Linked DNA regions of Homo sapiens: region 2 is linked to region 1. Evidence: fine-mapped expression QTL. Tissue or cell type: thyroid. Region 1 holds a variant in brackets; the other region holds the start of a gene. All regions are shown on one strand. Distances are from middle to middle.

What was found. PIP is the estimated chance that this variant, and not a neighbour inherited with it, causes the effect.
Region 2: it holds the start of WNT4, and the variant in region 1 is fine-mapped to the expression of WNT4 in thyroid (GTEx, PIP above 0.99).

The regions. Positions count from the first base shown.
Region 1 is chr1:22,363,489-22,365,988 of GRCh38, reverse strand. No RefSeq gene overlaps it. Among named protein-coding and RNA genes, the nearest start is that of ZBTB40, 87 kb to the left of the region's middle. The variant T/G (reference allele first, on the strand shown) is at 1,424.
Region 2 is chr1:22,141,986-22,144,485 of GRCh38, reverse strand. WNT4 (Wnt family member 4) reads left to right here and starts at 1,389. Exons shown (of 5, transcript NM_030761.5): 1 at 1,389-1,640. The coding sequence starts at 1,564. The region is part of intron 1 of LOC105376845 (a long non-coding RNA gene); the gene reads right to left. RefSeq lists silencers at 970-1,299, 1,862-1,921.

The sequences.
Region 1 (2,500 bases):
TATAAGGATATATCTGAGACTGGGTAATTTATAAAGGAAAGAGGTTTAATTGAATCACAGTTCCGCAGGGCTGGGGAGGCCTCAGGAAACTTACAATCATGGCGGAAAGGGAAGCAAACACTTCCTTCACTTGGTGGCAGCAAGGAGATGTGCAGAGCGAAGCCGGCGAAAGCCCCTTATAAAGCCATCAAATCTCGTGAGAACTCGCTCACTACCACGAGAACAGCATGGAGGTAACCGCCCCCATGATTCAATTACCTCCCAGGGGGTCCCTCCCATGACATGTGGGGATGATGCAAACTACAGTTCAAGATGAGATTTGGTTGGGAACACAGCCAAACCATGTCAGACAGGAAAGGCAGGCATGGGGGAAGGGGCGTCTTTGGGAGAAGCCATAGTCCAATGCCACGGAAAGAGGCCACCAGCAGTGAGTGTCCTGAAACATCACAGGGCTCTGATGGACGGGAGAACCCAGGTCTGCGGAGGCACAGGTGGGTGGGGCACATGGGACAGGGCTACCTGGGCAGGCAGAAAAGTTCCTGAGGGCGGAAAAGTTGCATGAACTTGGGCCTGGAGTCTGTTTAGAGCAGGTAGTGGTGGGTGGTAAGGACTGTCTCCTATTAGTGATGCCTACTCACTGTGCAAAATGAAGAAAAGCAGATGAACAGAAGGAGTAGAGTAAAACTGAACTCCAATCCCACCACCATTCAGAAATAGAGTTGAGATGGTGATATTTTTTTCTGTGTGTGGGGGGGCGTGCATTTTTGCGAATCAAATTGGGATCACGCAGCTATATTATTTGGCAACTTGCTTTGATGTTCATGCAATACAATGTGCCATGAACATTTTTCCATGTTGTAAGCATAGCTTGGCGGCTCCAAGCATGAACAGTGAAGTCCTGGGTCAAAATCGGTCCAACCACTTGGATCAGGTAGTTACCATCTTCTCTGAGCCTCACTTCCTGTATCTGTATGAGGAGAGAAAAGTGAGGCCTCTATCAAAGGGCAGGCCAGAGCCCCCTGCAGGACCAGCTCTCCAGCTCAGCCTTGCCTCACCCCACTCCAACCAGCGGCCATTTTCCTAAGTACCTGGCAGCTTCTCCCTTAGCCTGGAATGCCCCTGCCCCACTTGCTTGGACGACACTTACTCTTCTTTGAATAATCAGAGCAACCTTGAGGATTAAATGAAGCAAGGTGATGTATATAGACAGGGTACCTAGCGCAATGACCGGCACATCTCAGGAGCTTACTTTTCTACAGTATCTTTGTTGATGGCTGCTGAATGTATGATGAATTTCCCTATTCCAATGTATGATGAATTTCCCTCATTTGCTCAATAAATCTCTATTGCTGGACATTTAAGAAGTTCCCAGCTTTTTGCTTCTCTGAAAACACAACTGCTTGCTTCAATCATTGAAAGAAGA[T/G]CAAGTGCCCTCCAAGTAGGTGCGGCAGGGACATTCCAGGCTAAGGGGGCAGCAAGAAGCAGCCAGGCGCTCAGGGTAGGGGGTGAGGCAAGGCTGAGCTGGAGAGACAGACAGGAGTCAGGTCTGGCAGTGAGGATGTGGGCTGCGTCAGAGCTTAAACACTGGCCTCTGGGTGACAAGCCTGGCCGGGGATTAAGTAGAGTGAAATTGCCGCTCTTTGCAGGCCAGAGGGCAGGCCAAGGAATGAAGAAATGGGGAGGGACATGTGGAAACATTGGGGTGATAAAGAGAAGAGAGGTGGAGGCAGGGAGAGGATGCGAGCCTGGCACTGCTCTGAGACTATCTCAGTTCTGCTACTTAGTAGCTGTGTGACTGTGGGCAAGCTACTTAACCTCTCTGTGCCTTAGTTTCCTCATCTAGACATGAACTACCTCTACCTCTTGGGATTGTGGTGAGGGGTAAATGAGTTAATGTGGATGATCCCTGGACCATGCCCGACAAACAGCAAGTGCCCTGTGTGTTAGCAATTATTATGATGATTCCATTATTGTAGAAGACAGGGGGAGAGGGGCTGCTTCGCAACGGCCTTGCAGTCACCAGGTTGAGCACACATAGGAGCAGGTGGCCCAAGTCGCCCAGGTGTGGTAGTTTCAGTGCTGCTTCCCCAGTTGGCTCCTTGTCCACAGGTCCACAGCGATGGCACAGCAGCAGCTCCAGGTCCTGGAGGACAGCCCGGCTGGGCTCTCTGCCTCCTGACTTCTCCTCTTGGTTGTCTGAACTCCTTCGCTTCCTGACATCTCCCCCAGCCCTGCCCTTTCAGCTCTTCTTTATCTACCCTGTCCGCTCTTTCCTGTGGATTCTGATCCTCAGACGATGGGGCCTGGAGTGTGGCTGGGGAGGCCTTCATGGTGGTCTGGGATTTGGCTGGAGTATTCACAGCAGCCAGCCAGGTGCAGATAGCATCTTTTGCCCTGGGAGAAGTAGCCTCTTCTACTGTACCATGCTGAAAGAGTGTCTGTTCTTCCTCACTTCAAATGATGTTGAAAAGGCCCTTTCTGTTGCCTTAGCCTCAGGAGA
Region 2 (2,500 bases), 220 kb after region 1:
GTTCTGAGCCCAGGGGACCCCAGGGCACCATCCCAGCACCCAAACATGATGGCCTCTGTGGGAGCAAACTTCATACTCCAAAATCAGTGAAGAACTAAGATCAGGGGGTGAGGGCATAGACCTGGTCCTTGCCTCTGTTCCCAACCCCTAGGGAGGTGGGACAGGTGCCTCCCTTTCCGGGCCTTAGTTTTACTGTTTAGATAAGAGGTCCCTCTACCTGTGAGCAGCTGGGGGATGCAGCCTGGAGGATGAGTAGCACACAGAATCAGATCAGTGACCTGAGAGGGTGTGGCGTGGACTTGGGCAGACAATTCTTAGGGGTTACAGTGATGTGGAATTGAGCTCTCTGGACTAGCCAAGCACAGGCTGTTGCAGCCCATTCCATTCCATTCATTTATTCCTTCCACAAACATGGCAGGCACCGCCCTGTGCCCAAAACAAACAAGAGGCTGAATCTGCCTAGTATGGGAGGATAAATCGAACAAGCACATAGAAAACCAAATGCAAAGTAAGACTTGGTGAGTGAGCCAAGAGAGCTTCCCTAAACTCCTCCTGTCCTCCCAATCACAGCGTCTTAAGCCCACTTCCCGGATGAGAAAACGGAGGCTCAGAGTCAAGACCCTGCTGCCTGGGGCGCGCCCAGACCTTGTGGCTAGCCAGAAGCGAGGTTTCGGATTCCCACAGTCTCGGGCCACTGTCCCAAGCTGCCCAAAGCTGGGGAGGCCCCGTCCAGCTCCCGGAAGGCTGTAGGGAGGTGAGCGCCAGGGAGGGGCTGGGCCGCAGGACGCGGGGGCCAGGAGGCAGGGAGGGGCCGGGCGGGGGGCGGTCGGGAGACATCCAGCGCCCCGATGTGCAGCCCCAGGCACCCGGAGCGCCAGCGCCTGGGTGCGCGCGAGTGGTAGCCGCGCTCCGGTGGGTCCGCCGCGGTCGGACCGGGGTCTGGGCTCCAGGCGCCGGCGGGGGGCGGTGGGGGGGGTAGGGGGACAGCGAGGGCCGCGCTGCAGTGCCCGCAGCGGCGGGTTGGGGGAGCTGTGCCCGCCTGTCCCCTAGGCCCGGGCGGCGGCCGGGCAGCTGGGTCGCCGCGCCTCTAGCCGGGCCGGGCTCGGCGGCGCGCAGCCAGGCGTGCCTGGAGCGGGCTCGGGCCCCAAGTCCTCCGGAGCGCCCAGCCGGGGAGGCCCCGGGAGCAGCCCAGTCCCGCGGGCTAAGGCGGCAGCCGCCGCCGCTCCGGCCCGCCCCCGGGGGGGTGTCCCGGGCCGCTGGGCCCGCCCAGGTAACCCCATCCTCGGCCCGCCCCCGGCCCGCCCCCCCGGCCGCCCGCCCGCCCGCCCGCCTCCGCCGCCGCCGCCGCCGCCGCCGCCGCCGCATCCCGGCTCTGGGGCGGCGCTGACAGTCTGGTCCGCGCCGGGCAGCGGGCGCAGCAGCGGGCAGGCTGCCGGCAGGCACACGGAGGCAGAGCCCCGCCGCGCGCGCCCCGGCCCGCCCGCGGGCGCCCACCTGCAGCCCCGACGGGAGGCCCCCCGCGGCCGCAGCCGCTGCCCCGGGCCGGGCGCCCGCGGCGGCACCATGAGTCCCCGCTCGTGCCTGCGTTCGCTGCGCCTCCTCGTCTTCGCCGTCTTCTCAGCCGCCGCGAGCAACTGGCTGTAAGTCTGGCCGGGGCCGAGCGGGGCGGGGCGGGGCGGGGCAGGCCCCGGGGGCAGCGGCCGGTGCCAGGCGGCGCGGGGCAGCGGGCGCGGGGCAGCCCGGCAGGTGTCTCGGCCGCGGGACCGGAGGCTCGCTCGCTCCGCTGCCGCCGCCACGGCCCGAACGTCCCTCTGCACACCCGGGGTCCCCTCCTGCCCGGGTCCGGCTCCCTGCCCAGAGGCGTCAGGGGTGGCTGTGGCGGCGTCCGCACCGGTAGGCGGCTCGGGGCTCTCGAGGGCGCCAGGGGTGCGAGCGCGGGGCGGTGGCCCGGGAGGGGCGCCGGACGCGGGTTGCAGTCCAGCCGGGCTGACAGGTCGCTGAGGAAGCCCATTGCAGGGAAGGGCTCCGGGACATAATAGCAGGTTAATCCCGAGAAGTCCGGAGCGAGCTCCCAGCGCCGAGCTGCGCCGAGCTGCGCCGCGCTGCGGGCTGGGCTGGAGGCGTGCAGGGACCTGTTTCTGCTTGGGGGGCGGGAGCCGGAGACAGAAGGAAGGGACCAGGACGCCTGGTCTCCCAGGGCCCGGGGCTGGCGCTGGCGCTGGCCGGGCCTTGGTTTTTCCCCGGGGCAGGAAGAAACTCCGTCCAGACCTTAAAGAAGACAACGGCCCCCCAGCTCCCCGTGTCTAGCCTAAGGAGGAAGGGGTGGTAACCGCTGGTGACCTGTCTGTTTCTCCTTGACTGGATCTGCGCTCAGGGCGCTCCCTGGGTAGGGGCGGAAGGTTTGCTGCAGGGAGGGAGACTAAAGGGATGAGCTCCAGTGAGTGGGTGGACAGGGAGCAAGCGGACCCGCGCTCCTTTCATCCCCGCTCAGGGACAGTTC